Homo sapiens: one gene and its partners. The protein of the gene in region 3 purifies or fractionates together with the protein of the main gene of each other region. This does not show direct contact. Each region holds a gene or a part of one and is shown on either strand. Other genes may lie near its edges.

Region 1 (3,500 bases), on a different chromosome or scaffold from region 3:
TTTACATTTGTGTTCTAGGTCTTCCACAGTGTAGCTTCAAGTTACCTAATGTTTTGTTTTACCATTTTTCAAATTCTTCTCCTCTGTTGGTGGATTTATCCCATCCTTTTTTTCCACTTTCTGTTTTTCTTTATCACTTTCTTTCCCCTAGGAATACCCTGTCCATTCTGCCCCTACATTTATCTCCTCCTGTGTAAATCCTGAGACTCTGCCTAAATGTGCTCTCTCAATGAGTTCTTCTGATTCTCTCCCAGAAATGGCCACTCTTTCCATAACTACCTCAGATGTCACTTCATTGATGCGTCTTTTATGGTGCTTTTCTTCAATTTTATTTTTTGGCATTTCTCACAGTGTTATTACTGTCACAAGGCTTTATGCTAACGAGTAGCTCTCACTCATGTTTGTGTCCCCTGCAGTACCTGTCACAGTAGCTTGTATGGAGTGAGGCTCAATAAATGATTCTGAAGTTAATTTCACAGATAAAGAAATAGAGGTCTAGAGAAAGGAAGTGACTTGGCCAAAGTCACACAGATAGTTAGTGACTCCATTTGGATTAGAAGGCTTTGCTGTAATACTTTGATGTTCTAAAGAATAAATGCTTAGGATAGGGAAAATCTGTTCCTGTCCCAATAAACGAAGATTTGTGCCAATCAAAACATGCACAAGACAGCATAGAGAATGTTACTGGCATCATATGCACTAAAAACAAGTTCATCTTCAGCTTGTGGCTATAGGAATGAGGAATCACCCATTGGATTTGCGAGTGCAGTTCACAGCCAGTGCTTGCGCTCTCAACCTAACACGCCAGGGCCTGGCCAAGGGGATGCCTGTTCGCCTGTTGTCAGAGGTCACCTGTCTACTTTTCAAGGCTCTGAAAAATTTCCCCCATTACCAGCAGGTAATTTCAATTGAATATTTGTTTGTGCTTTTTTTGTTGTTGTTAATAGTCTCAGCTCTGTTGCCCAGGCCAGAGTGCCGTGGCACAATTTGTTTTTGTTTTTTTAAAGACAGAGTCTCTCTCTGTCGCCCAGGCTGGAGTGCGGTGGCACGATCTCAGCTCACTGTAACCTCTGCCTCCCGGGTTCAAGCAATTCTCCTGCTTCAGCCTCCTGAGTAGCTGGGATTACAGGCGTGCACCACGACGCCCAGCTAATTTTTGTATTTTTAGTAGAGACGGGGTTTCACCATGTTGGTCAGGCTGGTCTCGAACTCCTGGCCTCATGAGCCATGGCATACGGCAGACAATTTGTGTTTTCTAACTTTAGGATAAATATGTGAAAAATAGATATTATTTAGTTCTGGTTTTTCATCCTATTAGAGAAAGAGAATAGATAAAAGAGTGTGTTTGTTATAGAAAAAATAGGAAATATAGATAAGCAGTGAGGCTAAAATTTTCTTTTTTTTGAGAGATTTTCCTTCTTGTTGCCCAGGGTGGAGTGCAGTGGTATGATCTCGGCTCACCGCAACCTCCGCCTCCTGGGTTCGTGCCATTCTCCTACCTCAGCCTCCCGAGTATCTTAGACTACAGGCGCTCGCCACCATGCCTGGCTAATTTTTTTTTTTTTTGTATTTTTAGTAGAGATGGGTTTCACCGTGTTAGCCAGGATGGTCTCGATCTCCTGACCTCATGATCTGCCCACCTTGGTGTCCCAAAATTCTGGGATTACAGACGTGAGCCCCCGCGCCTGGCCTACACTCATTTTTATTTTTATTATTTTTTTTGAGACGGAGTCATTCTGTTGCCGAGGCTAGAGTGCAGTAGCACGATCTTGGCTCACTGCAACCTCTGCCTCCTGCCTCAGCCTCCTGAGTAGCTGGGATTACAGGCGCATGCCACCATGCCTGGTTGATTTTGTATTTTTAGTATAGATGTGGTTTCACCATGTTGGCCAGGGTGGTCTCGAACTCCTGAACTCAGGTGATCCACTGCCTTGGCCTCCCAAAGTGCTGGGATTACAGGAGGGAGCCACCATGCCTGGCTCCCTCCCCCACAACACACATTTTTAAAATGAAAAGGTAGATGATAGACTGGGAAACATGTTCATTATATATATATGAGAATCAACTTCATTCAGAGTATATAAAGAACTCAACTTGTTAATACAGTACAAATCAGTTATAAAAATGATCAAAAGATTTGAACACTTTGGTAGTTTCTTTAGGAATTAAATATACACTTCATAAACTACCTAGTCATTCCACTCCTAGGTATTTACTGAAGATAAATGAAAGCATGTATCCATATAAAGATATTTACACAAATATTCATGGTACCTTTATTTATTGCCAAAAACTTGAAACATCCCAAATGTCCAACAACAGGCGAATAGAAGCATTGTAATAAATCTATTTAGGGAAACACTACTTGGCACACAGAGATGAAGTACTGATATCTGCAGTGTAGATGAAACTCAAAAATGTTATATGTTGAGCAAAACAGGCCAAACTCAAAAGAGCAGAAGTACATGATTCCATTTGCATAACACCTTAAAAAAACTAATCTATAATGACTGTAATTTTCCGAGGATAGGGTTTACAGGGTTGAGACTAACTTGAAGAGGGGACAATGGAACTCTCTGGGGGTGATAGAAGTATTATATCTTGATTGTAGGAGTGGTTACACAGGGGTATAAATTTGTGAAATCTAATACAAATGTGTACTTTGTAAAGGGAGTTTTTTTTTTTTTTTTTTTTTTGAGATGGAGTCTCGCTCTGTCGCCCAGGCTGGAGTGCAGTGGCACAATCTTGGCTCACTGCAAGCTCCGCCTCCCGGGTTCATGCCATTCTCCTGCCTCAGCCTCCCGAGTAGCTGGGACTACAGGCACCCACCACCACGCCCGGCTAATTTTTTGTATTTTTAGTAGAGACGGGGTTTCACTGTGCTAGCCAGGTTGGTCTCGATCTCCTGACCTCGTGATCCGCCTGCCTCTGCCTCCCAAAGTGCTGGGATTACAGGCATGAGCCACCGCACCCGGCCAAGGGAGTTGATTTTTTAAAAATACAGTTAGGAAGGTGGTTTTCCTCATTTATTTCTACCTTATTTTTAAAGTTGGAAAATCCTACTCAAGTCTTCATTCCTGCATGGCAGTCATCAGTTACAGCATTAAATGAAAATTTAATGCTGGTACACAAATGAGCTCTCAATAAGAAAAGCTCACTAGTAATACTTCCAAATACATGGAATCTTTGTTTAGAATGGAATGTTACATTTGTTCAAAATTATTTTTCTTTATTCTCTAAAAGTTACAGAAGAATTGTCTTCTCTCCTTAACCAATTCCAGGATTCTTGTGGATGTTCCATTTGACAGGCAAGTATAAGACTTGGTCATTTGACTGGGGTGTTGGCCTTTGGTTATTAAATGCAGAGGCCTGATTAAGGCTGGGATAAGGTGTTTGGAGAGAAGGTTCTGTTGAGCATCTTCCACAGAGAAGTGATTAGAAGTACCCTACTAGAAAATGTTGTCTCCTAAAGTGATTCTAGTATAGGATAGTGGGTAAGA
Region 2 (3,726 bases), on a different chromosome or scaffold from region 3:
CATAGTGCTGCCATCTCCAGCCTGCACCTTCCCGACGCTGCCTGTCTCTGCCTTAGGGAGGAAGGGCCTGTGCCCCAGGGTTCAGCATCCTGGCTGTCTCTGCCTCCCTCACTCCTGCCTCCTCTCCCACTCCCAGGACCTGGCGACTCCCCTGGCCTTTGCCCACAACCCGTCCCGGGTGTGGGAGTTCTACCACTACCGGCGGGAGGTCATGGGGAGCAAGGAGCCCAACGCCGGGCACCGCGCCATAGCCGAGTGTGAGACCCGGCTGGGCAAGCAGGGCCGGCGAGTCGTGGTCATCACCCAGAACATCGATGAGCTGCACCGCAAGGCTGGCACCAAGAACCTTCTGGAGATCCATGGTGAGAGACCCCCAGCCTCCCATTCAGGGAACCAGCTTTAAAACACCTGTCCTGCTGTTTCAGCATCACCTCTGGTGCCTTCCCTCCCTCCCTGCTGGACATCCGTCCTGTCCTATAGGATGCTGTGGCATTTCCTTTGGGGACATGTTAGTGTCCCGTGGCACCTGGGCAGCTGCCTTTGGCCATGGGAGGAGCCCCTGACCCACTAACATTATTCACTTAGCAGTTCCTCCATCCTCGCTGCTCAGGGTGGTCTAAGAGCCAGCAACATTTGGCGTCCCCCAAGAACTTGTTAAAAATGCAGAATCTCAGGCCCCATAGGCCCCACTGAATCAGAATCTGCATTTTCCCATGAGCCCAGGTGGCTGGCGTGCTTTTTATACTGGAGGAACGCTGGGGTGCACAGCTGCGTGACCCTTTCCTCTGTGGAGGGGCACGGTACTGTGAGACAATGGCCTCAATGAGCTGAGGAATAAGAGGCCTGGCCCATTGGACAGCTGGGGCTTGAGCAGGAGCAGACTGCAGCATCTTGGGGTCTCCTGTCACTCCCCCTTCATCCTGGTGGGCACTCCCCACTGAGGCTGTGCTTCTGCCCCGCCCTGGAGCCTCAGAGAGCTGCCAGCTCAGTGCTGGACACTGCACCAAGCCCACCAAGCCTGTGATGTCGGTGGACCCCACTGAGGCTGTGCTTCTGCCCTGCCCTGGAGCCTCAGGGAGCTGCCAGCTCAGTGCTGGACACTGCACCAAACCCACCAAGCCTATGATGTCGGTGGAGTTTGTCTTGGGTCCCTCTGGGCTCCTTCCTCTGTCCTGGGTAACCCCTCACCCCTTCACTCTTGTCTTCTGGCTCCTCCCTTCTTTGCTGTCACCACAAATCTAAAACATCCACTTGTCCACAGTCATAATGGGCAAACTAGGGTTTCCCCCAAGGCCATTTGCATTTAAAGAGTCTGCATTCAAATCCAAGGAATGCATTTCTTATTTTTTAAGCATTTATTTCTCTTAATTTAATTTAATTTAATTTTTTTTTTTTTTTTAGCAATGGGGGTTTCACTCTTGCCCAGGCTGGGGTGCAGTAGCCTGATCATAGCTCATTGCAGCCTTGAACTCCTGGCCTCAAGGGATCCTCCCACCTCAGCCTCCAGAGTAGCTGGGACTACAGGCACATGCCACCATGCCCAGCTACTTTTTAAAATTTTTGTGGAGAGTGTCTCACCATGTTGTCCAGGCTGGTCTCAAACTCTTGGCCTCAAGCAGTCCTCCCTCCTCAGCCTCCTAAAGTTTTGGGATTACAGGCTTGAGCCACTGTGCCAGCCAAAAATGCATTTCTAAGTGTAGCATTTCCAGAAGCAGTGCACCAGTCGGGGGTGTTTGTTTTTGCGTGTGTGTGGTGAAGCTGCCTGCTTTTACTTAGATCACCCTGATAAGGAAAGCGAGGCACTACTCATTTCGACTGTGTCTGTCTTTTGTTCATCAGGAACAGCCAGCCACCTATTAACCGAGCATCTTTTTGGTACCTACATCTGCTGGGTCTGAGCCACTTTCCATGTGCCTCTGCTGATTTCCCTGCAGTGTCAGAATGTGGGCTATGTCATCAGCATAAAACCGAGATGACAATGCCTATCTTATAGAATTGTTGTCGGGATTAAATAAGATCATATATGTGTGTTAGTCAGGACTTTTTAAAATTTCAAACGATGAGAACTCTCTTCTAACTTAGGTTAAAAAAAATCAATGGCATCTTCAGTCTGATGAAGGGTTTTTTTTAAGATGCATCATGTTTTTAATGTGGCATTTAGAATATAATCTGCCTAAACCATGATATACTATTTTATTATCCCTTAGAATTATTCTATACTTAGAGAAAGAGCTTGTTAAAACTTAGACACGTTCTTTAGAAATTATATCTTTCCAGGCATACATAAAGTATGAGTATGATAAACTGGTCCAAATATTTCTCATTATCTAGCTCTTCTAAATGATTCTGAGTGACTCAGAGCACGGATGTCTGTGTTTTCCATGCAGTTTCATGCTCTGTGTCTCGGGAGATGGATGATGCAGCGTTTCCTGAGAGAATGCCCCTCTGTTATAGCTGGGATTCTCATCCAAGCTCCTGACACACCTTCCGCAAGTTCGCTATTGGGCCTGACATGTTCTTACCAAAAGGCATCAGTGGAAAGGCTGTAGACAACAGCCAAAACTTGCTTTCCTTCCTGAAGTGGCCCTTGAAGGGTTTGTTGGCGGAAGGATCCAGGGGCTGAATCTGCCCGGTCAGGCCACGGAGAATAACAACAAAGTCACCCCATTTTTCAGTGTTCTCCTTCAACAAGTCTGTGCAAGCATGATGATGATGTTACAGTCTCATCTGGCCAGTAGCAATTGTAGGACACATCTGAATTTCAGAGATGTGAAAATGGGGAAAAATGTCTATGCTAAAACTGACAAAGTAGGTTTATTGGCTCACAAAACTGAGGAGCCTAGTGGTGCAGCTTATGTCATCTTTCCTCCCGGCCCCTGTCCCCCTCCTTCTTTCAGCTTTGCTCACTCTTTGAGGTGGCCTCCCTTCTCTCTCTGCAATTGATCTGTCTCCACGCGCCAAGGGAGAGTGCCTCCGACGGCTCCAGCTCAGCCACCTGCTCAGAAAATAAACCTCTGGGTAGGCTTGCTTGGTCCACACGCCCACCCTTCTGACCAAACACGACTGCAGAGGGATGGACACCACATGGGGGCCGTGCGCAGCATGTGGCTGAGCTTGTATTTGGGATGTGACCCACAGCCCTATTGGCTCAGCATGCGAGAGAGCAGGGATGGTGCTCCCCAAGGAAGGACTGGTGGGCAGGACGGAGCAGCGCATGTCCACTAGGGTTGAAAGTGCTCTGCACGGCACCAGTTGCCTGGTACCCATTTCATAAACTGTGGCCACCATGATTGCTTCAGCTCAATAAGTGGTGGTTAGTATTAACAATTACTTTTTTCACTTATTAGTTGATTACTTATTTATTGAGGTGCTTTTGTATAAAAGATTCAAGCTTTCTGAAATCGAAGTTAAAATTTTGTAAACATATCCCACGCCATTGAACCTTTGTCAGTCATGTCAATAAATCACGCCCTTAGATTTAGGTTGAGCTCCCTCTACCCTATTGGCAACTTCTGCCCACTTGAACACCACTCCAAGGTCATCTGATGGCACATTAGTCATGGAGTTATTTATTTTTCCTCCAGATTATAAAGTCCTTGAGGGCATATGCTCTTGACTGGCTTAAGAGTACTGCATGCCTCTGTTTCCCATGAAAGCTAAAGCTAGGGTAGGCCCATTTGCTAAAATGAAGTATGGCTCAGTGTGGCGGTGCACACCTATAGTCCC
Region 3 (4,420 bases):
TGGTTCTCAGGTCATTTGAGGTCATACCAATATCACTAGATGTCAAGGTGACACATCATATTGGGCCTCCATTTTTGGCTTTATACCACAATATGGCTGACAGCATCCAATATGCTTCACATATTCAAACAGGATCCAATAATAACACAAAATGACCATGGTTCCCATTAGCAGTGGTAGTCCCTAATAATTCTATGAATGCCTCCTTGCATTACTCCACATCCATGCAAAACCACATGTAACTTCAGATATCCATGGTCTTATTCCACTTCTGTGCTACAATGGCTTACCCTTCAGCAACACGGACCAACTTCCATTCACCTAATACCATTGCCATTTAAAGAGCAGTCCTGGATGGGCATGGTGGTTCACACCTGTAATCCTAGCACTTTGGGAGGCTGAGGCAGGTGGATCATGAGGTCAGGAGTTCGAGACCAGCCTGGCCAATATGGTGAAATCACATCTCTACTAAAAATACAAAAAAAAATTAGTGGGGCGTGGTGGCACGCAACTGTATTCTCAGCTACCGGGAGGCTGAGGCAGGAGAATCACTTGAACCTGGGAGGTGGAGGTTGTAATGAGCCAAGATTGCGCCACTATACACCAGTACACCAGCCTGGGCGACAGAGTGAGACACCGTCTCAAAAAAAAAAAAAGTCCTGTTTTTAATCCATTTAAGGCCCAAGACCTACTGTCACAGATGACCATATTTCTCCCTGAGCATATTCAGCACGTGTAATGAAACCCCCCACACACTACCAAAGTCATCTCAAATCTTGATTGCACAGAGTGGTGAATAAGTACCACTCTGGCCTAAGTGTCATCTTCCCTCAATTTGACTACACTTCTGCATATATCTATTTCATGTCTATTCTCTCCTTGAAAGTCTATGTCCCCTGTCAAATTATGCTGACAGGTATACCCTACCATCATGGTCACTTACCTACCTCTCCAGTGTTTAGGAAGCCCAGTAACATTACCCAGGGACCCAAGCAACAGATGCAGTCCTCATCATTCAACCACTGCTTTCTGGTCCCCTAAAAGATTTACCACCAGAATCTGAAGTGTGTTCTCCTTAATGTGACCCATGGCTCACTCACCATAGCATACACATTAGCTACCATATATTAGATGTCTCCAGTGTCAATCCCTTTCCAGATACCCCAACCTGCATGTCCATAGCCATTTGATGCCTACACTTATTCGTCTCTGACTCTTCATATGGCCATAACAGTCATCCTGATATTTGCATAATATTCTAATTATGTTTATTACCAACATGCTCATCTCAGCTGATGCAGCTTCCATAGCTACAGCTACTAAGACCAAAAACCTCGGGATCCTGATTGCTCTCTTCATGCCCTTACTTTGTGTATTAGGAAACCTAGATGCTGTAACAAAATATCAACTTTGAATCCAGCCACATCTCCTTAGCCATGAATCTTAGTCTGTTAACCCTCACTTGGATTACGGCAAAAGCCTCAACTCTCATCTTATTTCCTCCTCTCTCAACCCCACAGTCTGTTCTCCACTGTACAGCCAGAGGAGACTACAGCCAGATGAAACTGTGGCAACATCACCTCCTCCCTCTGGTCAGTTTCACCTCTAAGCATTTCACATCCTGGTACTAACTCCTGGGTTAACCTTCCAAGTATGTTTATACTGGTTGACAGAAATGGGAATACCTCCATATATCCTGTGTCACAGACTTTGGATCCTGGGTTTAAGGTTCCTCCAGGGTTCCCATATCAAAAAACTTAAAAAAAAAAAAAAAAAGGTACCTAAGAATCCCAGGACATCCCAATCTAAAGAGCATGTGGATAGGAGTTAGGGCCAGTGAGGGAATAACACCCTCCGCTTCCCTGCGGAGGTTCTGCAAGTGCTTCTGCAGCCAGGAGTTCCTGAGAGGAGAGGCACAAGCTACAAGAATGTATCCCTGATGAGATTTGATAAGCTCAGGCCTCCCTGAACTCTTTCTTGGCCCTGTAACTAGGTAAACGCGAGTTGGTTGTCTGAACTGAGCGCCTCAGTACAAAATGTCATCTCTTAGCACCTATCTGATCTGTAGAGGTTGAACAAGAATTCAACCTCCCAGGGCCCAAAAGTCATCCCCTGTGTTCTTTTTCGACTGGACTTTGGGAAACCTTTAAAGCCTGGACATTGATCTTTTCCTTCCTTTGTTGGAAGCTGTCCATGGCTTCCAGCGTTCTCAGGGTGAATACACGGTCCTCAGCCTGCTCTTCCAGGAGGAGCTCTGCCTCACACTTTGCTCCCGACAGGTGCCTGTGGACCCTAGGTTACGATCCTCTCGGCTCAGTTCATCTCCAGGCCTTTGCCTGCACCGCTCCCTGTGCCTGTAGCTCTCCTGAGCGCATCCCGCGGGTGTCAAAAACGGGGGCCCATAGAGAGCGCCTCAGTGTCCCGACGCCGGGTTCAGGGTGTAAAACCTTGAGCAGGCGCCGCTTCCTCTCTGCTTTTGGACTTAGGTAAAGATGAGGTGACCTGAGGGCACGGAAGACGCCACAATTACCTGAGCCGGGGGCCTCAGCGCGGCCGCCGCCATCCGACTGGGTGGGGAAAGCGGGGTCGAAAGGAGGGGGCGAGCAGTGCAGGTACCCGGGCACGGTGGTCCCGATCCCGGCCTTGGTGCGGGTCACGCCTAGCGCCTTTAAGGAGCTGCAGAGCAGCCTCTGTGCAGTCGGGACAACGTCTCGTCTCCACCTTCTGGGTTCAGTCACTTCTACACGACCCAACACTCCGCGGTCTCTCACTGGAAAATACACCCAACACCAATCAAAATGGCCACTAGTAGAGGACGCCGGAAGTCCCACCTTTATACTGTTTCCGCGGAAACGCCTTTATTTTGAGCCCTCATTGGCTCTGACGCGCTGTCATTCGACGCAGAGATTTCTGGGTTATGTAGTTTCCTCAGGTTCCAAGACAGTTCCAAGGCGGTAAAGAAGGCCTTCTCAGAGGCGCTTGATTGCACAGAGTGGTGAATAAACACTACTCTGGCCTAAGTGTCATCTTCCCTCAATTTGACTATACTTCTGCATGTATCTATTTCATGTCTATTTTCTCCTTGAAAGTCTATATCCCCTGTCAAACTATGCTGTCAGGTATACCCTACCATCACGTTCACTTACTTGCAGGAAAGGCCCAGCTCCATCTCAGCGGCCTGTCCTTAAAGTGCATGTCCTTCTAGGGTAGAGGATAGTCTCACCTAGCCTTAGAACCCGTATTGAGATTTTTGGAGATTAGTGTCTGTAACTGATCACTCAAGTATTTGAAAAAATATTATTTTAGATTTTGGGGAACTCGAGCTCTCCGATGCTAAACTTATTATTTAGGATGCCCCCAAAGACTAAAAATCCAAATTATCATAACGTTTTGAACAGTCTTTCAGTCGCAAAATCCCGGTACTGGCAGCAGAGGCTGATAAACATTATTGTGTTATAAATTCACATGAATGCACTCTGAGGCATTAGAGTCAGTTTCTCAGTCTGTCAGGGACAAGAGAGAACTAATCCAGATAGGACAAGACAAGGAAGATAGAGGAGAAATGTTGTGTTCCCTAAAGCAGGAATACATGCTGAATCTCTGTCTGTGATTCCCACAGAAGACAACTCTCCTGCCTATAAAATCAATCATAGTGTCCAGTACATTGAGCAACACTTTTATCCACTTAGTATCCCTCGCTTGAGATTCCAACTTATATTCAATTAATTCTGGATTAATTTATCTAAGATTTATCAATCTTACAGGAAGACCAATGAAAGAAATGCTATTTTGGTAGTGATAAATGGCTGCAGTTTTCAAAGGTGGGGCACGTATGCAGAAGATGCTCTCCACCTGTTGATATTGGTTGTGTCTTAAATCCAGGAGTTCATGTTATTGCTGGGAAGTGGCTATTTTTTTTTTTTTGTATTAGATAAAACAGACTTTATTTATTTCTTTTCTTTTTTTTTTTTTGTGACTATTCTTTATTTCTGTTTCCATGGCAAGGAGTGTTTTGCCTAATAAATTAATGTTATGGATGGGATTACAGGCATGAGCCACCATACCTGGCTAATTTTGTATTTTTAGTAGAGACGGGGTTTCTCCATGTTGGTCAGGCTGGTCTCGAACTCTCAACCTCAGGTGATCCACCTGTCTCGGCCTCCCAAAGTGCTGGGATTAAAGGCATGAGCCACTGTACCCAGCCGCTCAGTTCTTAAAAAACCTATGTCTTCTATGTTCAGGGAGAAGAGGCATTTAGAGCAAGAGCTTACTCATTCTCCATTTCTGCTCAGAAATAAAACTTGCTTGCCTTTTTTTTTTTTTTTCCCAAATTGGGTGTTCTTTTTTTTGTGACCAATACAAAGTAGGGAAAGAACTCAGTTTATTGGTAGTACAACTTAAAAAAAAAAAAGCATGTTTA

What was found.
Region 1: the proteins of ZNF776 (region 3) and ZYG11A purify together in Homo sapiens (affinity purification with mass spectrometry; one large-scale study listed by BioGRID and IntAct). This does not show direct contact.
Region 2: the proteins of ZNF776 (region 3) and SIRT5 purify together in Homo sapiens (affinity purification with mass spectrometry; one large-scale study listed by BioGRID and IntAct). This does not show direct contact.

Annotation. Positions count from the first base shown.
Region 1 is NC_000001.11:52,863,260-52,866,759, forward strand, and holds part of ZYG11A (protein zyg-11 homolog A), read left to right. Parts: intron 1-721; coding exon 722-898; intron 899-3,243; coding exon 3,244-3,308; intron 3,309-3,500. UniProt on the Homo sapiens protein: Probably acts as a target recruitment subunit in an E3 ubiquitin ligase complex ZYGA-CUL2-elongin BC.
Region 2 is NC_000006.12:13,591,533-13,595,258, forward strand, and holds part of SIRT5 (NAD-dependent protein deacylase sirtuin-5, mitochondrial), read left to right. Parts: intron 1-136; coding exon 137-362; intron 363-3,726. UniProt on the Homo sapiens protein: NAD-dependent lysine demalonylase, desuccinylase and deglutarylase that specifically removes malonyl, succinyl and glutaryl groups on target proteins.
Region 3 is NC_000019.10:57,745,202-57,749,621, reverse strand, and holds the start of ZNF776 (zinc finger protein 776), read right to left. Parts: upstream 2,808-4,420; 5' UTR 2,564-2,807; coding exon 2,531-2,563; intron 1-2,530. UniProt on the Homo sapiens protein: May be involved in transcriptional regulation.